Regions from separate parts of the Homo sapiens genome. Here all the other regions are linked to region 1. Evidence: fine-mapped expression QTL. A gene starts in region 1. Each other region holds a variant in brackets. All regions are shown on one strand. Distances are between the middles of the regions. Region 1 holds the start of C6orf89 (chromosome 6 open reading frame 89). Region 2 overlaps PPIL1 (peptidylprolyl isomerase like 1). Region 3 overlaps C6orf89 (chromosome 6 open reading frame 89). Region 4 has its middle 22 kb from the start of PI16. Region 5 has its middle 6.1 kb from the start of FGD2. Region 6 overlaps C6orf89 (chromosome 6 open reading frame 89).

What was found. PIP is the estimated chance that this variant, and not a neighbour inherited with it, causes the effect.
Region 2: its variant is fine-mapped to the expression of C6orf89 in whole blood (INTERVAL, PIP above 0.99). The same link has a PIP of 0.9 or more in skeletal muscle.
Region 3: its variant is fine-mapped to the expression of C6orf89 in lung (TOPMed, PIP 0.96).
Region 4: its variant is fine-mapped to the expression of C6orf89 in whole blood (TOPMed, PIP above 0.99).
Region 5: its variant is fine-mapped to the expression of C6orf89 in esophagus muscle (GTEx, PIP 0.95).
Region 6: its variant is fine-mapped to the expression of C6orf89 in esophagus muscle (GTEx, PIP above 0.99).

What each region holds. Positions count from the first base shown.
Region 1 is chr6:36,883,860-36,887,947 of GRCh38, reverse strand. It overlaps C6orf89 (chromosome 6 open reading frame 89), which reads right to left and starts at 1,996. Exons shown (of 9, transcript NM_001286635.2): 1 at 1,920-1,996. RefSeq lists a silencer at 1,757-1,936 and an enhancer at 2,157-2,236.
Region 2 is chr6:36,853,627-36,857,714 of GRCh38, reverse strand. It overlaps PPIL1 (peptidylprolyl isomerase like 1), which reads left to right. Exons shown (of 4, transcript NM_016059.5): 3 at 1,061-1,129; 4 at 1,682-2,886. The coding sequence ends at 1,902. Among named protein-coding and RNA genes, the nearest start is that of CPNE5, 16 kb to the right of the region's middle. The variant C/TC (reference allele first, on the strand shown) is at 1,989.
Region 3 is chr6:36,914,626-36,918,713 of GRCh38, reverse strand. It overlaps C6orf89 (chromosome 6 open reading frame 89), which reads right to left. Exons shown (of 9, transcript NM_001286635.2): 6 at 4,021-4,088; 7 at 2,140-2,269. Among named protein-coding and RNA genes, the nearest start is that of C6orf89, 31 kb to the right of the region's middle. The variant G/A (reference allele first, on the strand shown) is at 2,000.
Region 4 is chr6:36,930,549-36,934,636 of GRCh38, reverse strand. No RefSeq gene overlaps it. Among named protein-coding and RNA genes, the nearest start is that of PI16, 22 kb to the left of the region's middle. The variant G/A (reference allele first, on the strand shown) is at 2,010.
Region 5 is chr6:36,997,506-37,001,593 of GRCh38, reverse strand. No RefSeq gene overlaps it. Among named protein-coding and RNA genes, the nearest start is that of FGD2, 6.1 kb to the left of the region's middle. RefSeq lists enhancers at 2,724-3,347, 3,348-3,971. The variant C/T (reference allele first, on the strand shown) is at 2,148.
Region 6 is chr6:36,904,310-36,908,397 of GRCh38, reverse strand. The region is part of intron 4 of C6orf89 (chromosome 6 open reading frame 89); the gene reads right to left. Among named protein-coding and RNA genes, the nearest start is that of C6orf89, 20 kb to the right of the region's middle. The variant A/C (reference allele first, on the strand shown) is at 2,387.

The sequences.
Region 1 (4,088 bases):
TTCCAAGACCAGCCTGGGTAACATAGCAAGACCCTGTATCTACAAAAAAAATAAAAATAAAAATTGGCCGAGTGTGGTGGTGCCTGCCTGTAGTCCCAGCTACTTGGGAAGCAGAGGTGAGGGGTAGCTTGAGCCCAGGAGTTCGAGGCTGCAGTGAACCGTAATAGCACCACTGTACTCCAACCTGGGTGATGGAATGAGATTCCTGTCTTTTTTAAAAGATAAAGTCCAAATTACTTACCATGGCCCTTTATGATCTGGTCACTGCCTACCTGTTCAGTTTCATTTCCCATCAATCCTTCTTCACATTCTACACTGTCATACTATTTCACATCTTTTTGCTTTTGCATACACAATTTCCTCTGCCTAAAAAGCCTAGTCTCCAGTGCTTTGTCCAATAAGTGAACTCTTTAAGACTCTGACCTCAGTTTTTGTCCTATGCACCTCTAGGGCTTGGCATTACATCTATTTTCCTGTCTACCTCCCACCCTAAATAGTGTTTCTTGAAAGCAGAGATAAATGGAGAAAACACAAAAAACTAAGAACAGACGTGGGAATTCACCTCAGATGTGGAATCAGATCAATGTTGAACAAATTTATAGAAAGGACCTAAAATTATCATTCCGAACTAATTGAATGTAACTCGTGGCTCATGGTTTATTCATTTTATGTTTTATTATTTTATTCATTTTTAAAAATGCAGAGGTCGGGAGCCTGAGGCAGGAGAATGGTGTGAACCGGGGAGGCGGAGCTTGCAGTGAGCAGAGATCACGCCACTGCACTCCAGCCTGGGCGACAGTGTGAGACTCCGTCTCAAAAAAAAAAAAACAAAAAAACGCAGAGGTAGCAACAATGTGATGAGGGTTTAAGGTTAGCAGGTTAGGAATCTAGCATTTGGACATTGTTTCTGGTGTGTGGAGTAGCTGTGGAGGAACAGGTATTCAAAGCAGGTCTTGAAAAATGCCTCAGTCCAAGGCAGAAAAGGTCTGACAGAAACAGGACCTCTTTCTGGTATGCAAGTTGGGCTACATGAACCTTTAGTCAAAACTTCAATGTAGCAGAATTGAATTTATTAGTTATTATTTTAAAGGCATGTTATTCCCTAGAGGGAAATTTTGACAACCCAAATTCAAATGAACGAATTTATTAAGGGAGAGACGTCTATAGAAGATCCCACCACAGGAACTACCAAATGAGCCATCAGAAAAGTCAGAATACTAAGTATCTGGAAGTAGTCTCTATTATAAAGTGATTTATGACTAAATACTTTAAAAGAAACATATTTGCGAATACAAAGGCTATGAGGGCTCTGAGACTAGAAAGTGTGGCCTGCACGGTTAACAGTCTTAAAATACTACAAAACACGACGCAGGCAAATTTCCTTCTACTAAGAGGTGATTACAAACAACTATTTTACTTGTGTCAAGAAACCAAGTCATATTTCTTTCTGAAATCCAAGATGCCAGGTTTATCACATACCAAGTACACATTTAAAGAAAAAAAATTATTGCCCCCTAACGATTATTAGAAAAAGATCTTTCAGAAGGGGGTGGGGAATCTACTCTTAATTTCTTAAAAATTCCGTCAAAAGGGCAGAAATCTGGACTTCATTAGCAACGCTCAAGTTATGGACACTGCTGTGATGCCTGAGAACCAAGTTCAAGCAAGGTCCACCTCGTTTTGCTCTCCCCGGCGGAGTCAAAGAAAGTGACAGATGTCTTAAGGGAGTCGACCCCGGGGGAGCTGCCAGGGGATGCTGTCAGTCTACAAAACTGGAGAGACTGAGAAAAGGGATCCGCGCTGGGATAGAGGGTGGTAGCAGCGGCGAGAAGCGGCTGCGCGAGGATGTCAGAGACGGGCGCGGCGAGGCTGTCACAGGGCGGCCTCCCCCCACCCAGCCTCGGGCCCCAGTCACTCACATGCGGGGCTCGCGCCCCTCGGGCTCCTCCCGCCTCGGGGACAGCTGCCGCCGGGCGAGGAGGATGGGCAACTTCCTGTTTCCGGGAGCGCGACCCGGAAGCAACCCCCCACTCCTGGGCGAGGCCTTGTACCCTAGAGTAATTCCTCCTCTCGTCCAGCGCTTCCGCCCAAAACAGAACACTCAGTGTCGTGGCGAGCGCGGGACCTCTCGCGATATCTGGAGAGTGTAGGTTCTTGCTCCCCCTGGCGTCCTTCTTCCGTTCTGGCTCTTTTCGCCCCAGTCCTAAATCCTTGTCTTCCTAATTTACCTGGACTGGCTCACACAGACTTCATAGCTGAACTGATCCATAGAACAAGCATTTACTGAGTCCCCTACTATGTGCCAGGCAGCATGTTAGGCATTAAGGGATGGGAGTGGAAGGGAAATGTAAATGAAGAGCAGCCCCTTCCTTCTGGAAGCTACTACTCTTGAGAAAGACGAACAAATCCCTCCAGTTTTCACTCAGCCCACTCATTAGTGAGAGCTTACTCTGTTGATAAAAGAAAAACTTAAGCCGAATTAAGTATAAAGGAGTTTAATTGAGCAATGGAAGATTCACGAATCAGGCAACCCCCAGAATCACAGCAGATTCACAGACTCCCAGGGTGCCTCATGGTCAGAACAAATTTATAGATAAAAAAGGCAAAGTGAGGCACAGGAATCGGAAGTAAGGTACAGAAACAGTGAGGTTGGTTACAGCTCGGTGTTTGCCTGATTTGAACGCAGATTGAACATTCAGCAGGCTGTGAGTGGTTGAAGTATGGCCGCTGGGATTGGCCACCACTCAGTTATTGTTACAGGTGTATACTATTAAGTTAGGTTTTCAATTTTGTTTGACTATTAAGCTATGTTACAGTTCATCCACAAGGACTCAAATATAGAAGGACAGAGTCCTTCTCAGGCCATATTTAGTTTGCCTTAACAATTCCCCCGTTTTGGTCATTTTCTCAATTTTGAGAGATTGACCAAAACCTTGGTCATTGATGTTATTATCGCTGTCATAAGTGTACCTGTATGGTTTTGAAACTCACTAGGAAACAGTAGAACAGTGGGTTTTGCAGGAAGAGAATAAGGGCTGAGTAGAGGATACCTCCTTATTCTGAAACATCTGTTTACAGGAGAAAAAACCTGGTCTGTTCTAGCATTTTGTGTTTTTTTAAAGCCTTGGTTTGATTATGTCACATTTAGCATGAGTGACTCCATTTTAGTTTGGTTTGGTTTGTTGGTGCCTAGTGCATGAGCTCAGTCCAAAATAATGGCCTCCCATGATTTTGTTTAAAAAAAAATTCCTCACTTTTGGCCAGGTTCTTACTTAGGTGACAGCGTGACCAGAACTTAGGGCCTTAGCGCCACTCTCAGTTACATCATTTTGGGTTTCTGGTCTCAGCATGTCATTCATAGGTTACGGTGCCTTCATGGTCACACATTTCTTTCAGTTTTTGTTATTCCAGTTGAAAAGAGATCATTTGACGTTGTAGAGATGGCTGCATGCAAGCATTTAAAATCTTTGAGAGAATACAGTGCACCAGGGAGACTATTATTATCATTATCGGGCGGATAATAGCAAGAGTTTGGAGTATGCTCCTTACCCAGGGTCCCCATAAGCCAAACCACCTAAAATTAAATAGATTGAAGAATGAGTTAGATGAAGAGTCTCCTTGCTTGACTAAGTGGTCTTTTCACTAATCCCCTACAACTGGATATTTATTTTTATTGTATTTATTTTGTGAGAGGGAGTCTTGCTCTGTCACCAAGGCTGGAATGCAGCGGCGATCTCAGCTCACTACAACCTCCACCTCCTAGGTTCAAGTGACTCTCCCGCCTCAGCCTATTGAGTAGCTGAGATTACAGGCACCTGCCACCACGCCAGGCTAATTTTCATATTTTTAGTAGAGACAGGGTTTTGCCATGTTGGCCAGGCTGCTCTCAAACTCCTGACCTCAGGGGATCCGCCTACCTCTGCCTCCCAAAGTGCTGAGGTTACGGGTGTCAGCCATCACGCCCGGCCAGAATTGTTTATAATTTACATTTGCTGTATTTCTCCATAGGCCACAGGTGTCAACAGCTGCACAGGTACTTTTCTGTTTAGCCAATTCTATTACTTAGTATAATTTTCAAAGGAGAATTT
Region 2 (4,088 bases), 30 kb after region 1:
ACTCCTGGGCTCAAAGCAGTCCTCCTGCCTCAGCCTCCTAAGGAGCTGGGACTACAGGCATGTGCTACCACATCTGGCTGAATTTTAAAATTTTTTTGTGAGCCAGGTGCAGTGGTTCACGCCTATAATCCCAGCACTTGGGAAGCCAAGGAGGGAGGATTGCTTGACGCCAGGAGTTTGAGACCAGCCTGGGCAACGTAGCAAGACCCCATCTCTAAAAAAAAAAAATTTATGGAGTCAGGGTCTCGCTCTGTGGCCCAGCTCAAACTCCTGGCCTCCAGCAGTCCTCCTGCCTCAGCTTCCCAAAGTGCTGAGATTTTAGATGTGAGCCACCACACCTGGCCCTGTTTTCTCTTAATGATGTACTGCCTCACCTCTCAGTGGACTCTGCCGACCGTAATGTCCCTTTCTGCCACATTGCCACTTACCAGCTATTTCTCCTTCAGCTGGATAGCTTTAACTTAAATGAATTTTATTTTCCATCACCTAGGTTAAGGGTGGCAAATAGGTTTCAACTCTGGGGCTATTACTGATTAATTAATAACGGCTGCCTGAGTTCTGGGTTGATAACATTCAGAGGCAAATCTAGCTCAGCAGGGAAGAATACTGATTGATTGGCAATGTCTGTGATGGGCACAGGGATAGGACTTGGGGCACTCATGTCTAAAATACTCAAAAAAAGGTTAAAAATCAAGAAACCTCTTAACACATCAGATTATGAATGGTGGTTATCTCTAGATGGTCAGGTTACAGAGGATTTTAATGTTCTTTTGATAATGTTCTATGTTTTCTACCTTTTTGATAGTGAACATGTATTATTTTAATGTGCAGGAAAAAATAGCGTTATTTTGAAAAGGAAAGTCTTATCGGAATGAAACCAATGATTTGAATGTGCTATTAGTGCTAGATTCTGTAGTTGCAATATACCTAGCAGTGGGGTAGGTGTCACTGCCTTTTCCTTTCCTCTACTCTGAGAAATCCTTTGACCCTGGGCCATCATTCTTGCTGTGAGATAGAATGTGTGACTGGCTGATTCATGTGTCATCTTCCAATCGGGCAGGTCGAGGTGGTGCATCTATCTATGGCAAACAGTTTGAAGATGAACTTCATCCAGACTTGAAATTCACGGGTAAGTGTATAATTTGGCTGGACTGGGTAGGAACGGGGATTTTAAAAGCTCACTCTTTTGGCCATGATTCAAGGTGAATGCCTGACACCGTGGCATGGTGCCAGATAGCTGCCCAGCCATGGCGCCATGAAGTGCCCTGGTGGATTAGAGAAAGCAGCGCCTCTCACAAAGTTCTGAGCAATTCAGAGCACTGGTCGGTGTGTTCTAGACTCTAACTACTTGTTAAAGGTCACAGGATATCAAAAGTGTCCTCAAAGAAACAGGAAACCTTGCTGGGTTTTTGAGGGCAGTCAGGAACATGGTCCACAGTTAGTGAGGAGCATCAGGGGTCAAGGCTGGGGAATAGGTGAGGACAAGGAAGATGAAGTCGCCAGAATAGTGTAGTGATGGCCTTTGTACAGGGCAGAGAGACTGCCCTGAGGGGTTGTCTGGGTCTGGACAGAGGCCAGAACAAAGTCCTGGCTGCTTTTTCATCCCTAGGATGGGGCAGCAGCTCTACACTGGACCTGTGGGGTTATTTATACTCTTTCCTTTCTTCCTTTTTCCCACCAGGGGCTGGAATTCTCGCAATGGCCAATGCGGGGCCAGATACCAATGGCAGCCAGTTCTTTGTGACCCTCGCCCCCACCCAGTGGCTTGACGGCAAACACACCATTTTTGGCCGAGTGTGTCAGGGCATAGGAATGGTGAATCGCGTGGGAATGGTAGAAACAAACTCCCAGGACCGCCCTGTGGACGACGTGAAGATCATTAAGGCATACCCTTCTGGGTAGACTTGCTACCCTCTTGAGCAGCTCTTCTGAGATGGCCCCAGTGAACCAGCTTCTAGATGACATAGAATGACATGTAATGCTAAATT[C/TC]ATTTTGGCTTTGCAAGTCATGAAGCTTAGGAGGCCTGGCATCTTGGGTGAGTTAGAGATGGAAGTACATTTTAATAGGATGCTTCTTTTCTCTTCCCCCAGTGCCTAGGTTGCCAGAGCATTTGCACAAATGCCCCTGTTTATCAATAGGTGACTACTTACTACACATGAACCATAATGCTGCTTCTTGTGCATGTCTGCTCTGATATACGTCGAACAATGTAGCAGCCACTGTCATTTCTCAGTGGTTTTGCCTAACCAAACTTCTTCCTAAGGAGATTTATATTCTGGCCTACACAGCAGTCCTTGATGGCTGACAGCCACAGAATTCCAAACCAAGTAGTGTCTGTCAGCCCTCTTAACTCTGTGCACGCCCTATTTCAGTCTTTTACATTTGTTCTTCTAGGGAATGTATGCATCTCTATATATATTTTCCCTCTCAAAACCAGAACATCAACAGTGCTGTTTCTGACACTTCAGACATCCCACGCAAAGCCACATTGAATTTTTGCCAAATGAAAAACACATCCAACAATCAAGTTTCTAAGAAGGTGTCAAGTGGGGAATAATAATAATGTATAATAATCAAGAAATTAGTTTATTAAAAGGAAGCAGAAGCATTGACCATTTTTTCCCAGAGAAGAGGAGAAATCTGTAGTGAGCAAAGGACAGACCATGAATCCTCCTTGAGAAGTAGTACTCTCAGAAAGGAGAAGCGCCACTCAAGTTCTTTTAACCCAAGACTTTAGAGAAATTAGGTCCAAGATTTTTATATGTTCAGTTGTTTATGTATAAAAATAACTTTCTGGATTTTGTGGGGAGGAGCAGGAGAGGAAGGAAGTTAATACCTATGTAATACATAGAAACTTCCACAATAAAATGCCATTGATGGTTGAAATTGCTGCTGTGGTCTGATTCTAAATATTGTATGAGGTTCCAATGGTCATTTTAATCCCAGTCATCTTAAGTAGTAGTACAGAGATTGAATGTTCAAGATTTCACATCATTTTAGGCTTGTGGATCTCCAGTAGACTTCTCCCTCTTTAAGAGCAATTCTAACTTTAAAAGGGCAGAACCAGAGAAAGAATTAAGTGACAGAAATTGACATTTCTGAATAAGAGGTGTATTCATCTGTTTTCACATTGCTATAAAGACACTACCTGAGACTAGGTAATTTATAAACAAGAGAGGTTTAATTGACTCACAGTTCCACATGGCTAGGGAGACCTCAGGAAACTTACAATAATGGTGGAAGGCAAAGGAGAAGCAAGCACCTTCTTTACAAGGTGGCAGGAGAGAGAGCGAGCACGGGGGAAACCACCATATTTAAACCATCAGATCTCATGAGATCTCCCTCACTATCGTGAGAACAGCATGCAGGGGGAAAATGCCCCATGATCAGTCACCTCCCACCAGATCCCTCCCTCGACACAGAGGATTACAATTCGAGATGAGATTTGGGTGGGGACACAGAGCCAAACCATGTTGGGGGGATTACCTGTAAGTGAACCAGGTGTATGTGCTAAGAGACCTGCACCATCCCTGGAATTTGCAGAGAGCCCACCTGCACATTATTATGGGACCAGAGGCAGTATATGTTGTGGTGTTTGGTTCCTTAAGCTGGTAGCTCCTTGAAGAGGGGATTATAACTTTAATGTTTCTTACTACTCTATCAATTTTGGAAATGGTGATTTACTTTATGGAATGGCCAAACAAGGTTCTGTTCCCCAAGCCTTCCCTACCTTCAACCTCTTTCTCTACCTTTCTCTTTTCTCTCAATAGCAAAAAAGCAAAACCCAACAACAAACCATATAAATGACTTTGTAACTTCCCAGAGATGGTTTTTGTATGCAAAGTAGTGTTCTACACTCTGGAAAAAATAGAAATGTATTTCTTTCAGCCTGAACTGGGTGGACATAATTGGATCTGCCTCTGAGAGCAAGGAATAGCACCTGTTCACTAACCTCCCAGAATCGTAATCCTGAAAATCTCCACTTTCATCCAAGGCACAGGCGTGGTGGAAACGTATCATGGCTACTCTGAAGCAAAGAAGGTTCTGCATGCCTTGGGAGGAGAGCCACACAGGCACAGTTCCTTGTT
Region 3 (4,088 bases), 31 kb before region 1:
AAAACCCCTAGGGCCTCTTCTCTCATCTCTTCCTCCTATCTCTTGCCCTTCAGAGAAACCCTTTATATGCCCATATAAAGTGGGAGCCAGAAGTCTGACTCCCTGGGCCATGTCTTGGTTTTCTCTTCACCACTCAGGGCCTCCAGAGTCTTGGGTTTTGGCCCCATCTTCCCCTGTCCCCAACCCTGTTCTCTCTGCTGCTGCCACAGGCCTTGCCCATAATGTTTTCATGGCAACACCAGAGCCATTTCACCGGCTAATGTGGTGACAGGGACAGCCTGGTGTCTTCAGCTAGCCTTCAGTTGACTGGTACTAATATTGGCAGAAGCCTTAACATCTGTAGTCCTCAAAACAATCTCAGAAGGACCAAAACAAGTGGCTGTATCCCTTCTTCACACAGGCCTGAAGTGGGCAGGGTCATGTTCATCCATTCCCAGGATGGGAAGAAACAGACAAGAGGGTGGCACAGGCCAGCCCTAGGCCACACCGTGGAGTGGGTGAAGTGGGCCTTGGAGGCCCTCACCTTCTCCCCGAGTGCCACTTAACAACCAGCTCCCCAATTCTGTCCCAAGGCTGCCTTTGGACACTGGGCCCACAGACACGTGACTTTAACAGGGCCCAGGGCCCAGGGCCCAGGGATGTGGACAACAGGGTGGGGTAACAAGGCTGCGGGGAAAGGGGAGCTTGGGCCAGGGTGGGGAAACAGATTCTCTAAGAAACTGGGTTCTCAAGAGTTTTGCCTGTCTGGCCACTGCCCTTCCCAAAACATCCTCGAGAACCACAGCATGACTCTCGTAAGCATTTGAGTAACTCTGTATTTACTCCTTTGGCTGGGCTCCTTGGTGTTGCACACGCTGGAGAAATTAACTTTGGTATTCAAGTGGTAAAACCAAGAGAAAGATAAAGCCGTGTCCCAGAATTATATTTATGAAGATGAAATCATACAAGGGCCTGGAATTCCAGCCGGCGACAGCAGGATAAACTTCTTTAAAATCTGAGGCAAGAGCCCAGCATCTCCACCCCAGTGCTGGCAGACAGAACTTCTTACTTCTAGACAAAATGATTGTTTTTATAGGCTTTTAAATTCCTTTAACACAATTCAGCAAATTTGGAGCCAAGCGATAGTATCAGGAGGTGGAAGCCATGGTCCAGAGGTGGCAGGGGGCCATAGTTTGGGAAATTTATTTTTTTATGAAGGAAAATGCATGCTTTTAATTCTCCCAAACCGATCCAGGCTCAAAAACCTTCCTTAGGAATGAGACTCAACAAAAGGAGCAATTCAGAGAAAAGTAAACAGACACAAATGCAGAACAGCTTCTCCCAGTCCACTGGCCCCAGAGAGGTAACTTTGGCTCTGAGCACTTGGCCCCAGACTGAAGTGGGAAATGATGGGGGCAGAGTGGGCTTTTCTACCCCAGCTGGGCTGCCTGCCTATCAAATCCTTCCCAGGCTCCCACACTTTTTGCCTTTCAAGTTCTCTACCTGAAATCTCTTAATTGTTTATTTCTGGCAAAAACCATCCTGGGGGTGAGAGGGTAAAGGGTGTGTCCTTGGGCAACTCACTTAATCTCTCTGGGACTCAGTTTCCTTATCCACAAAATGGAGCAGTTATTCTATTCATCCACATACTATTACCTTATAGCTTTCTTTTCTTTTTTTGAAAAAATAGAGATAGGGTCTCCCTATATTGCCCAGGCTGGTCTGAAACTCCTAGGCTCAAGCAATCCTCTTGCCTCAGCCTCCCCAAGTGCTGGATTACAGGCGTGAGCGACCACCGATCATGGCTGCTTGCCTACTTTCTAATTTAAGGTAGGAAAGCCAGACTAATTGCACCCTCAAGTCCTTCAAATTTTAAGATTTCACTTCTTTTAATATAGAAAAGTAGTTTGCCTCAGGTGTTAAGGGCAGGAGGCAGATTTGCAAGGTAACTAGATTTTCTGGAAACCTGCCTTCATGACAAGGTGGGCCCCTGCAAGTCTCCTGGCTAGCAGCAGGAGGG[G/A]AGAACTAGACTGTGTGGGTGTCCCCTCAATTCACCCTGTAACCCTCTAAGCCAATATGCAGGGAAGGCCTTGGTTATGACATCAGTCCAGGTCCCAAATAAAGAAAATTCTAGATCCAAGTCCTCTCAAAATTTCCTACCTTACTCCCCACAACAGGTTCTGGGTGAAGAAAGGAGCACTTGTTTAAAGAGGCATCTTTTGGAAATGGCAGGTGAGTGAAAACAGGAAAAAGCTCACGTAACATTTGTGATCTGTTCAGAGGTCTCCTCCTGTAGAAGTATGAAACAGAAAAAAAGTAATTAAACTGGTCAAGCCAGCCCATGACTAAGAGAGAGCCAAGTAAGGGTGGGAAAACTGTGGGCGGTGGGTAAAGAGGGAAAAATATGAGTACAGTATCTTAAGTACTAGGTCCCTGAAGAATAGTTGCACAGAGTCAATGAACTATAATGTGTACACACACAGGCATAAACTCTACAGCCATGATTTGAGTATGTGGGTGGAGTGTTTCTAAATTGCAGCTAAAACAATATATATTGGAAGGAAAGAAATAATCTATTCATTCTATCTTGGAAAAGACTGAAGTAACAGCAGGCCAGGCGGGGGAAGGGGAGAAGAGAGAAGGAGGAAGGGACAAAAAGCATGACCCTTCTTCTGAGGCACAGGGAGACGCAGGGGGAAGCCTGCTCAGCTTGTTCAACTGGGCACTCTAGCACGCAAACAAACAGCACATTTAAAGAAAGATAGAAGCATTAAGAAATTAACAAAAAGCCTGAAAAAGTCATTTTAATTCTTTCGAAACAGTTCTAAGATGGAAACTGGCTTTCTTTTCTTACTAGACAGCAACCTTAACCACAAGGAATGAACCATGTCTTCCGCAGGGCACAGGAAGGAACAGCAGGACAAACTGGGGTTTCGATCCTGGCTGGGTAACCTTAGGCAAGTTACTTAATCTCTCTGTTTCCCATTTTTCTTTCTTTCTTTCCCCCTCCCCCAACCTTTTTTTTTTTTGAAACAGGGTCTCACTTTGTCGCCCAGGCTGGAGTGCAGTGGTATGATCATGGCTTACTGCAGCTTCAACCTCCCAGGCTCAAGCCATCCTCCCACCTCAGCCTCCCAAGTAGCTTGGATATTTTTTGTAGAGATGGGGTCTCCCTATGTTGCCTGGGCTGGTCTCCAACTCCCGGGCCCAAGTGATCAACCCGCCTCAGACTCCCAAAGTGTTGGGATTATAGGCATGAGCCACCACGCCTAGCTACTGATCCCCACTTGTCTGATCTGAAGAATGACAACAATCATTCCTACTTTCCAGAGTTATTATCAGTGTCCCCAGTGAGACACAGACACTAAGCACCAAGCCACACTGCCTGGCAGAAACAAGTGCCAAAAAATGCAATTCTCCTTCTATTATTTGCACTCTCTCTTCAGCCCCCTGCATGAGGCCCCATTCTACATAAAATGCTAAATGCATACTTCGAAATAAATTATGACTCTATTAGACAAACTTGCTGTCCCCCCCATGGTGGCACCCCTCCTTCTGACACACCTCTTCATCCATCCCTTTTATCTCTCATCACTGGTTTATCAGTGGGATCCCAGCATTGGATTTGTAAAGTGTTGGGCCTGTGGTAGTGGCTCAGTGATAGCTATTACTGTTTTGCAGGTATTTCTGGTCTGCCCCTTTCCTACTCGCACGCTAAGTGCCCCCATAGCCCCCCCATTTTTTTGAGACACAGTCTCACTCTGTCACCCAAGCTGGAGGGCAATGGCGCGATCTCAGCTCATGGCAACCTCCACCTCCCAGGTTCAAGTGATTCTCATGCCTCAGCCTCCAGAGTAGCTGGGATTACAGGCATGCACCACCATACCTGGCTAATTTTTGTATTTTTAGTAGAGATGGGGTTTTGCCATGTTGGCCAGGCTGGTCTGCAACTCCTAGGCTCAAGTGATCTGCCTGCCTCGGCCTCCCAAAGTGCTGGGATCACAGGCATGAGCCACTGTGCCCGGCCCTTTTCACACTCACCATGGATAAGGAAATGGGAACCACCGCTCAGGAAAGCAGCGCCACCACTTGGCGAAAAACCCTTCAGA
Region 4 (4,088 bases), 47 kb before region 1:
AAATCAGTTTAAATATAAAATGAAGGCCGGGCGGGGTGGCTCACATCTGTAATCCCAGCACTTTGGGAGGCTGAGGTGGGCAGATCACCTGAGCTCAGGAGTTCAAGACCAGCCTGGCCAACAGGGTGAAACCCCGTCTCTACTAAAAATACAAAAATTAGCCAGGTGCGATGGTGTTTGCCTGTAATCCCAGCTACTCAGGAGACTGAGGCAGGAGAATCGCTCAAACCCGGGAGGCAGAGCTGCAGTGAGCTGAGATTGTGCCATTGCACTCCAGCCTAGGTGACAAAGTGAGATTCTACCTCAAAAAAATAAATAAAAATAAAATAAAATGAAGTCCCAGCTACTTGAGAAACTAAGGCTGGAGGATTCTTTGAGGCTGGTGAGAACAACATAGTGAGACTTTGTTTCAAAAAGAAAGAAAAAAAGACTGTGGTGAGAATTAAGGTTTCAGAGCAGAAGGAAATGCATAGACTTTAAAAACAAAATCAATATAGGAATAAACAAATTGAGGAGAAAGAGCAAGCTATTTCCTTATCTTTAGAGCCTTGGATTATGCCATCTAAAAAGGAAACCTTATTAAGAACAATTCTAGTTTCTTAATGTTTCTCATAATATTAACTTCAGGGAGATCTTTTGGGAACTACTAATTTTTGTGGGGAAGAAACATCTACTTCAGTTTCTTTTTCTCCTGTTAGATTCACATAAAATTAGATTCAGAACTTTTCTTTTTAAAATAGCATTTTAATATAAGCATTTCTATTTAGCATTCTACCTAGAAATACCTTAGACATACCTAGAATGCTGTTCACCTAATGTTAGTAGTTATCTCTGGGTGGTTTTTGGTTTTTTGTTTTTAAGAGACAAGGTCTCGCTCTGTTGCCTGGGCTGGAGTGCAGTGTTGCAATCATGGCTCACTGCAGTCTCAACCTCCTGGGTTCAAGCGATGAGGCTGAGGCTGGGACTACAGGTGTGCGTCACCACACCCAGCTAATTAAATTTTTCTTTTTTTTTTTTTTTTTTTTTGTACAGACAGGGTCTTACTATGTTGCCCAGGTAGGTCTCAAACTCTCGGTCTCTCCCCTTGGCCTCCCAAAGCACTGGGATTACAGCTGTAAGCTACCGCACCTGGCACTGAGTGGAGGTTTCCATAAGATCACCCAAACTGTCTTCAGTTCTTTATAATAAGAATGTATTATTTTAAAAAAAATAATAGAGTCATTATTCTGAAAAAATAAGATTGGTGAAATGTCTGTCTTCAGCATGGTGTCTAGAGGCTTGTCAGTTTGATTTAGTAAGAAAGCCTAAAGGACATGTGTCATGTCACAGGAATGTGCAGTAATAAGATGGAATTCAAACTAAGCAAAAATTCATACTGAATTTCAAAAACATCATGGGCTAGGAATTATAACTTCTAATTAAAACCGCCTGGATGCAATTTGATCTATGGATTCAATGCAATCCCAATCAAAATCAAACACAAGCTATTTTGTGGATATCAATAAACGGATTCTAATGTTTAAATGAAGAAGCAAAAGACTCAGAATATCCAACTTAATACTGAAGAAGAACAAGGTAGAAGACTGACACCACTCTGACTTCAATATTTACTATAAAGCTATAGTGATCGAGACAGCGTCCTATCAGCAAAAGAACAGACAAATATATCAAAAGACCACGAGAGAGAGAGCCTAGAAACAGATCCACATAAAGATACTGATTTTTTTTTTTTGTTTTTTGAGATGGAGTCTCGCCATGTTGCCCAGGCTGGAGTGCAATGGCTCGATCTCAGCTCACTGCAACCTCCACCTCCCAAGTTCAAATGCCTCTCCTGCTGCAGCCTCCCGGGTAGCTGGGATTCCAGGTGCCCGCCACCATGCCCAGCTAATTTTTGTATTTTTAGTAGAGATGGGGTTTCACCATGTTGGCCAGGCTGGTCTCAAACTCCTGACTTCGTGATCTGCCCGCCTTGGCCTCCCAAAGTGCTGGGGTTACAGGTGTGAGCCACC[G/A]CACCCAGCCAAAGTGTTGATTTTTGACAGAGGAGCAAAGGCAATATGCTAGAACAACTGGACATTAACATGCAAAAAATGAATCTAGACATAGACCTTATACCTTCCATAAAAATTCGCTCAGAATGAATCTAAATGTGAGTATAAAATGTAAAAGTATAAAACTCTTAGAAGTTAACACAGGAGAAGGCCCTAGATGACCTTGGTTATAGAGGTGACCTTTTAGATACAACACCAAAGGCATCATCCATGAAGAAACCAATGATAAGCTGGACTTTGCTGAAATTAAAAACTTCTGCTCTGGAAAAGACAATGTCAAGAAATGAGAAGACAAGCCACAGAACTCTTAAAACTCAATAGTAAGAAAACAACCAACCAGACTATAATAAAAAAAAAATGAGCAAAAGATCTGGAATCCTCACCAAAAATGATATATAGATGGTAAATAAGAAAACATGTTCAACATCGTATGTCATTAGGGAATTGCAAATTAAAGCAGTAAGGTGTTACAAACCTATTAGAATGGCCCAAATCCAAAACACTGACACATGCTGGTGAGGCTGTGGAGCAACAGGAACTCTCATTGCTGGTAGGACTGTAAAATGGTACAGCCACTATGGAAGACAATTCAATGGTTTCATAAAAAGCTAAACATACTTAGGCCGGGTGCGGTGGCTCACACCTGTAATCCCAGCACTTTGGGAGGCCGAGGCGGGCAGATCATGAGGTCAGGAGAGCGAGACCATCCTGGCTAACACGGTGAAACCCCGTCTCTACTGAAAATACAAAAAATGAGCCGGGCGTGGTGGCGGGTGCCTGTAGTCCCAGCTACTCAGAAGGCTGAGGCAGGAGAATGGTGTGAACCCAGGAGGTGGAGCTTGCAGTGAACTGAGATTGCACCACTGCACTCCAGCCTGGGTGGCAGAGCAAGATTCCATCTCAAAAAAAAAAAAAAAAAAAAAAAAAAAAAAGCTAAACATACTCTTACCATATGATCCAATTATTGTACTCCTTTGTATTTAGTTATATGAACTGAAAACTTCTGTCCACACAAAAACCTGCGCATGAATGGTTTTAGTAGCTTTATTTACAATTGCCAAAACTTGGGAAGCAAACAATATGTCCTTCAGTAGATGGATACATAAATTCTGGTATATCCAGACCATGGACTATTATTTGGCACTAAAAAGAAATGAACTATTGAGCCATGAAAAGATGTTGAGGAAACTTATGTGCCTATTACTAAGTGGAAGAAGCCAGTCTAAAAAGGCTACAGGCTGTATGATTCCAACTATTTGAACATTCTGGAAAAGGCAAAACTATGGAGACAGTAAAAGATCTGTGGTTGCCAGGGGTTAGTGGGGAGAGAGGGATGATCAGATAGAGCATAGAGGATTTTTAGGGCAGTGAAACTACTCTGTATGATACTATAATGGCAGACATATAACACAGGACAACATACATTTGTCCAAACCCATATAGGATGTAAAACACCAACAGTGAAGTGAACCTAATATAAACTATAGACTTCAGGCGATAATGACCTGTCAACGTAGGTTCATTGACTGTAACAAATGCACCACTCTGGTAGGGATGCTGATAGTGGGGGAGGCTGTGCACATGCGGGAACAGGGGATATATGGGAACTCGCCGTACTTTCCATTCAATTTTGCTGTGAACCTAGAACTGCTCCAAAAATTAACAAACAACAAAAACCCCAGCCTGGACGTTTCCAGGAATTAGGATGGTCCAGTAGAGGAGGGGCACAGGAGATGAGAAGGGGAAGCAAAGGAGATGAGGCTGGAGTGGTGGCCAGGACTTCTCCTGTGGGCAATGGAGAGTCACTGAGGAGCAAGGAAGGGAGGTGACCAGACATCAGGGCAGCTACATGGATGGTGAATTGGGATGGGGAATGTGCGGCGAGAAACCAGTGAGGTAATTACTGGCAGAGTCTAAGAGTGAAGCAAGCTCTTAGACAGAGACAGCAGCAGTGGAGCTCGATATGTGATAAGGAGGCAGGATTGTCCTGAGCTTGGTCCTGGTCAGAAGTAGAGGCTAAGAAAAAGGAGAGGAACCCCT
Region 5 (4,088 bases), 110 kb before region 1:
ACAGAACTTCACTTTCCTCTTCTGCCACATGGGGATAATTATACTGCCAACCTCCTGTGGTTGTTATGAAGATTAAATGGGATAATAATATATAGAAGAGGTTAGAGTAAGGCCTGGTACTGAGTAGGTACTCGGTGACTGTTGGCTACCAGCATTCTTACTTTTGAGAGAAGCCTTTGCTATAGCTCCGCTCTGCCTTGACCAATCAGTTCCCTTTGCCTAGAGCAGTGGTCCCCAACCTTTTTGGCACGAGGGACTGGTTTCTGGGGTTGCGGGGGGTGGGGAGATGATTTTGGGATGAAACTGTTCCACTCAGATCATCAGGAATTAGATTCTCATAAAGAGTGAGCAAACTAGATCCCTCACATGCACAGTTCACAATAGGATTCGCACTCTTATGAGAATCTAATGCCACTGCTGATGGGACATGAGGCAGAACTCAGGTGGTAATGCTCACCCGCCACTCACCTCCTGCAGTACGGCCCAGTTCCTAATAGGCTACGGGATCCCTGGCCTAGAGTGTCTTCAGTCTGTCTACAGCCGGTTCACTTCCTCCAGGAAGCCTTCCTTTATACCTACTGCTGGAAATTCATTTTCCTCCTCAGAGACCTGGTGTTCCTCTCTGTTTAATTTTGTCTTTTCCGCCCTATTCATTAAGTCACGCATTCAGTAGATAAGTGTTTCTTGAGCACCTACTATGTGTCAATACCATAGTAGAGGTTGTAGATAAAACACAGTCCCCAGCCCTTTAGCTCAAACTCTAATAAGGAAGATGGGCCTGTTAACCACTAAAATAGGATGTGATGAAAGCTTTGAACAAGGGAGTTATGAACATCCAAAGAAGGGTCATCAGAAGGCTTTGTGGCAGAGGTGACTTGAAGTATGAAAGATGAAGGATGGGCTGGGTGCGGTGGCTCAAACCTGTAATCCCAGCACTTTGGGAGGCTGAGGCGGGCGGATCACAAGGTTAGGAGTTTGAGACCAGCCTGGCCAATATGGTAAAACCCCGTCTCCATTAAATTAAAAAAAAAAAAAAGCAAGGTGTGGTGGCAGGTGCCTGTAGTCCCACATACTCAGGACGCTGAGGCAGGAGAATTGCTTGAACCTGTGAGGCGGAGGTTGCAGTGAGCCGAGATTGCACCACTGCACTCCAGCCTGGGTGACAGAGTCTCAAAAAAAAAAAAAAAGATGAAGGATGAAGGATGAGTTAACTCTGTGTGGACAAGACAGGAAGGGGCATTCAAAGCAGAAGGAACAGCATGTGCAAAGGGATATGGGCTTGAGAGACCATGGCTACCATGGCTAGACTGGGAAGAACACAGGGCCTCGCACACGTGGGTGTCCAGGGCCTGGGAAATGGTGGAACCCGCAGCTGAAGGGGTCCTGGAAGCCTGGCCTGCTAGGCTTTGTCTGCCAAACTGAGGTGCTTAGAAGGTTAGGGGAGTGAGTATAGCGTTTTCAGCAGAGTAACCCCTGATCCAGTCTACAGATCTCCCTCTGAGCAGGGGCAATGTCTCCATTTCAGGGCTCTTGGGGTCTTTGGCATGAATAAACCTCTTGTTTTTTTTCTCCTCTTCTCTGCTTTCAAGCCCAAGGGAAGATGGAAGAGCTCAGTTCCCTACAGCTCAGATGGGGGAAGGTGGGAGGGAGGGTGAGGGAGGGATGCCCAAGCAGAACTGCAGGGCCAGGTGGGGACTCGGCTGGCGAGGGATCTCTACCCTGGGGTGCATGCAGAGCGGCTTTGTGTGTAGACTGGAGGCGCCCAGAGGACCTCTTGGGGCAACTTTGGGAAAGCAGAAGGGGCATTTAGAGGCTGCCAGGGAGGAAGTGTCACAACTTAGGATCAGGATGCTATGAGTGTATATGTGTGTATTTGTGGGGTGTGTATGTGACATGTGTGTATCTGGTGTGTGTGTAGGTTGGCGTGTGTGCACGTGCATGTATGTATGTGTGCATTGTGTGTATGAACGGTGTGTGTGTAGCAAATCTGCAGGGGTTCACCAGGTGTAGCCTTTCCGGGGACAGTGAGGACTCCCCAAAGGAGCATTTATCTTCAGGGTGACAAGGACTGGAGGGGACAGGCTGGCATGTTCCCAGGCTCCCCCTTGCCAGCCATCCCACCTCCAGCCTCAGTCAAGCACACAGCA[C/T]CTGCCAAGGGCTTAATGGCCCGTGACAGACAGGCCTGTGAGCTGGGATGATGCGGCTCTAGAGAGGATGCAGGCAGCCAGCTGAAACCTGTGCCAGAGGCTGCCGTGACCCTTGCCACCCCTCCCGGTCTCCGCCTCACCCCCTCCTCCTGCCCACCCCCACCCCCTGCTTTTGGAAGGCCCTAGTGAGGGCGCTGTCTGGGTAGTCACATGGTGGGCAGAGGCCACACTGCCGATGGGAGGGATGGGCGCCAAGGGCCTCCGATCCCTGGCTTGGAGGGAGGAAGCTGAACAAAGCTGGGCTCCCTTGGAGACTCGTCTCATCTGTCCCCTCCTCCAAGCAGCCAGAATTGTTCCACTCTGTCCCTCTGCCGGAAATTCCACCCTTTGCCGAGGCTTTCTTCTGGAAGGGTGCTGGCCCCTTCTGTGGAAGGCCCGCCGGCCTTCCCGCTTTCACCTTTTCCAGGAACCTCCCTATATTTTGCCTGCTATATGCCCCTGACCCTCTGTGGCCTGGGTGTTCCTAAATGTTACTGTCAACCTGAGGAGTGGAATTATTCCGAGTTGGTTCAGCCCTGTGAGGAATACCGGGAGGCAAAACCCACCTCTCTCAATACAGGCTCCTTGCGGCTCACTGCCCAGGAGGATCCGCTCTGAGAGCACAGCCCAGATAGCAAAGGGGTGTCAGGCCTGACGTGGGGGGCAGATGGGTGTCAGGCCTGACGTGGGTGGCCAGAGGACGTCAGTGAAGAACATAAACAGCTCTTTCTTCTTCAGCGTGTGAACTATCTAGTTTCAAAGTTGGCATTCACAAGGATTGGGCAAGGCTTGTGCCAGGATTGGGCAAGGCTTGTGCCAGGCCCTGGCACCCACCCCACTATTCAGGAAGAACTCAAGGTCACTAGAAGCAGAGATCAGGTGGGGCCCAAGGAGGGAAACCAAGAGTGAAATCGCAGGCGGGCTGAACCCACAGTGAATGTGCAGGCTGGCAGGAGATACGCCCCCGGGACACTGGGAGACGGCAGAGGCAAGGATTGTGTTTCTAGGGGAGGAGAGGGGGCCTGGCAGAGCCAGGGCCGGGATCTGGGCAGGGAGGCACCAGAAAGGAGCCAGTAAAGCAAGGCCAGAGCCCAGGAGTGGTGCCAGGCTGTGCCTGAGAAGGCACCCAGAGTGCAAGCACTCAGCCACCATGCAGGGGCCTCACACCCAGCGACAGGCTCCTTCTCTATCCAAATAGTTGTAGGCCTTTCTCGAGGCCCTGACTGCTTGGTTCTTCACAGCGCTCACACAGAAACATGAGTGGCTTGGAGAGAATTGACAGGTTTCCAAGTGGAGAAAGGGAACACATTGTTCCTGCACAGCCAGCCCGCTGCCCTCCACACTGACGACCTTTCTCCCACGACCCATTCCCCCACCTGTGCTACCTCTCCGCTATCTTCCCACACAATAGCACGACTTATTCTCTGCCTGTGATTTCTGCATGAATGCATCTTGTTACTAGGCTCCTCTTGTACCTTCTTCCAGGGAGCTGTTATGTAACAACCACACAGGAGCCCACTAACAGCCCATTGCTCCCATCAAGGAGCTGCCGAGTTCCCGCCCCTCCTCCCACCAGGTCCCTTCCTTCTTTGCTCTCAGCAAATAGCCCCTGTGCTGGGACCTTGGGAAACAAGGAGAAATGAAACCCAAATCCCATCCGAGGCCTCAGTCCTCACAAGATCCAGAAGGGGCAGGACCTTGGCTCATTTGTCTCTGGGTCCCCAGAAGTTAGTACAGTGCCTGCCAAACAGTAGGCCCTCCACACATCCTTTCTGAGTGGGGAGCAGCACATTCCAGCATGCGGGAGGGGGTTGTGGAAGGTTCTCTTTCCTCCGCCTCTTGCCTTCCCTGAGTTTGGCTTTTGGTCTTTCCTTGGAGCAGCTCCTATCAAGCCAAGCTCCG
Region 6 (4,088 bases), 20 kb before region 1:
CAAGTCAAAATGTCCTTGGAGATCATGAAAACTGAAGCTGAGAATTCAATGCTGAAGTGTAGAGGTAAATCATCTCAGAAGGCTGGCCCCAGAGAGGTATCTGACAGGAGCAGAGGTGGCCAGGCTGGTGGCCCGCAAAGAAGGAAGGGAAGTAACAAGAAAAAAGGATCACTGGAATGGGGTAGCCTATGCCATCCACCTGAACTAAGGGAGCCCAAACTTTAAAAGAAAGAACTACTTTTGATTTCTCTGTAGCCTGAGATCACCAAGGTGGATAAAGCATAAGCTTAGAGAGAGGAACGGGCAAACGGTGAACTAGGGGTGGAGGTAGGGTGCAGGCTCCTCTTCCTCTCCCCACAGAGTCCCTGACAACAGAAAGAGATGTGGCCAGACTCCAGCTTGGCCTCTGTCCATCTGAAAAGGTTTTGTCTGACGTGTTCTCTATACAACTGGCTGGAGCCATCATGCCACAAAGTGAACAAAATTCCATCCTGGGAAACAGCCAACAGCACACAGCCAGCCGAGCCCATGCCACCCTAGTTTACGGCTTTTGACTACCTAATATGCTGCATCTCACTTCTTTCCAGCCCTCCTGTTTCTAACCACTTTTCCTGAAGCACCAGACAGAAAAGTCAGCGTAAATTATATAGCAACTTCCTACTTTTAATTTCTAAGGCTTCTTTACTCCAGATATCCCTCATACCAGATATTTTAAACATTTTTTAAAGGTATGACAGAGAAGAGAAATCCTACATATAAAAGTTCAATAAAGCTTATAACTTGTATTTCAAGTTTTCACTATGATTTGGAATGATTTCACTGTTGGAGATGTCAAAAACAGTCTCTCAGACAAAACACAGCCTTGAAGTCAACGTGCAGAGACCATAACTATCCACCCTTCTTTACAAGTTGGGCACTGGGCAGAAAAATGGATGGGCCAGCGTCTCACCCATCAGGGAGCTTCCTGGTGCCTGAGAGTTATTTACAAGAAAACTCACTTAGGCTGGTTCTCTGTAGACAACCATAACATATCCTGGAATTCTGAGTGGGGAGAGTACTGTTACATAGATTATTTACCTGGCAAAAACAAAACAAAACAAAACAAAACAAAACAAAACAAAAGATTTCTTTCCAGGACAAAAAACTCCCTCTGGATAAAAAGGATAGGGAAGAAAGAAAAGAACAAAGCCAATACTAGCTCTACAAGAGCAGTGGTTTTGTCTGTTTTGTTCACTGCTTTGTTGAGAACAGTGCCTGGCATATATAGCAGGGTCTCAATAAACATTTACTGAATGAGTGAATGAAGTTGGGGAGAGGGAGGAAGGGATGGAAGGAGGAAAAGAAGGAGGGAGGAAGGCAGGAAGGCAGGCAGGAAGGCTGATTTTTCAGAAGCTTTAACAATAGAATTAAGTCCATGGGGAGAAAAATCAAATGAGCAATCTGGATTCACAGAAACCTCAAAATAAAGATTAAATAAATATAACTTCATCATTTCTTGCATTATAAATATAGCCAAGAAAACCCTGCAAAGCCCATGACAAAGTTCCCATGACTTTCACTAGTGTGTGCTCAATATTTAATCAGGCTGCTCTCCAGAAGCTTGTTTGTGCATAGCACCTCTTCTAGTACCCCGGGCATGAGGCAGGGGTGAAGCCTTGACAATGAAGGAGGCTTCTGCCAGGTCCCTGCATGTGTGGCACCATGCCCAGAGCCATTTTCACACACCGTAGAGGGAAAGAGCCCAAGAAATCATTTCACCAACAGCCTTGCCTCCAGGAAGCAATGCATTTGAACCACTCCAAACCACAGAGAAAGTCTATTTTCATGAGTTCTCACTTGTACAAAAATTTGTTTCTAAATGTGAAAATTTATTATCAAAAACACAGCAAAAGAAAAAATTAAAAATAAATAAATGTGAGACTTCAGATAAGTCAGTCAATCCCCTTGCACATCAGTTTCCTCATCTTTGAAATGAACATAAAAACAGTATCTACCTTATGTGACTGCTGTGAAGACTGAGAAATAAACTGCACGGCACAGTACCTGGTATACAGTAAGTGCTTGACAGAGCTGTTATTATCACAGAAGGTAAGCTTATTTTGCAAATAAAAGAGGAAGGTTTTCCTTGCGGTCTAAGCAGTTCATCTTTGAGCACAGATCTGGACTCTCTAAGTCTTACTAGATTCTTAGTTTGAGGCCAATAAATGATTTGCTATTTCCAAAACTTCTTGATGTTGCTGGATCTACTTCATCCTTCCTTTGAAGGTTACGGGATGCATCGAGTTCCAAATGTGTGCCTTTTCACTGTATGTGAGAACTATCCCAGGCTTCCTCAGTAGAAATGAATATGTTATTTTTAAGTTGGCCAGAAAATGACCAAAGTAAA[A/C]AAAATAATTGGCTGAACATGCTAGCGCCTGGCTTGACTGAGGGCAGAGATGGCAGGCTGTAAGTGTGATATCTTGGACAGAATGCTAGAGGGAGTTAAGAAACTAGGGTTCAAGTGTGATTTTGCCACTTTTAGCTGGGTAAGCAAGCTCCTTTACCTCTCCTGGCCTCAGTTACCTCTTTTATAAAATGGGGTATGTACTAGATTAACTCTAAAATTCTTTTCTGGCTTTAAGACTCAATGATTCCATGGAAATGGTAAAAACCAAGGGGATGGCCGGCAGGAGTAAAGTGACTATAAAGATATGAAGCCAGGAGGGGAGAAAAGCAGTAAGAATGTGAATGTAAAGAGAAAACTCTGGGTCAGTAAGAGGAAGGATTAAGTCAGTCAAATATTATCCATAAGGGTGCAGACTAGGGAGGATGAACTGGGCTGAATGTCAGGGTGCAGACTAGGGAGGATGAACTGGGCTGAATGTCTAAGACAACACCAGGTCGGGAAAATTCTAAAGGGTCAGAAGCTTGGAAGACCACTTATCTTTGGAACAGCCAGAAAGAATATTGTCTCTTCAGGGACTAGGGAGTTAAGAGAAAGTAACTGATGATCCGAGAGAGACAGTGGTAGAACTCCAACATCAGACTTAAAGCTAGACTCTTCAGGTCTACTGCACAGCTACAGACTACTCACATCAGAGGCGAAGGGCTCAGACTCTGAAGACTGGCTGCCTGGGTTCAAATCATGGCTCCGTGACCAGACCTGGGACCTTGAGCAAGTGACCTAACCATACTGTGCCTCAGTGTCCTCATCTGTAAAATGGGCATAAAACCTGAAGCTACCCTATAGGGATGTTGTCAAGATTAAATAAGCCGATATATGGAAAGCCCCCTGAACAGGGTCTGGCATCTGGTAAGTAATAAACAACTGTCAGTTTATTTACTTATTTTTTGCTGCAGAGCGGGATGTTTCCATGACTCGCTGCAAAGTCACTTCATTCTTCTTATTGAGAGCATTTAGGGGCAGGATTTCCTATCTAAGGCTGAAATCTAGAAAAAGAACCCCACCTCTGTCACCTTTTTGTTCCCTGGGTGGGGTCAGGGGAAACTTCCAGTCATTGGTGGTGGTGCCTCTTGTACATCACCAAGGCTGCAGCTGCCCTCCATCATTCCCGAGGTGCCACTGCAAGGAGCACCAGATGACCCTGGGAGTGTGAGACAGGCCAGCACTTCAGGAAACCATATGGGGTTTCCTTTCGGGAATCTGTCACACCATTCTCCCCTTGCATTTACTTTAAATGTATGGCCAACTAATCCTAACCTGAAGGTAGTTGTTTTTTGATACCAGGACATTAAAAAATGATATATTTTTACTTTTCCTGCCCTCTTACAGGCCCAGATTAAGTTGCACTTAATTCTCCCTCATGTGTTTCTGTTTACTCTTCATATAATTACGTGTTTTTAACTTTTCTTCCAAATGCTACGCAAAATGCTGTTAGTTTCACATGTCTACAGCTTCCCAGAATTATCATACATAGGAAAATATGGTGCTTCCACATCCACATTTACAAGTAAAAACAGCACTTTAATAGAATCAACAACATTAAAGAGCTAAAGCCACACCCTTCCAATGCTCACTCGCTCTCTCTACAACTGAGCTCCAAGGACTCATTTTATTTCCATCTGCAAGGCAAAATATTGATTTGAAG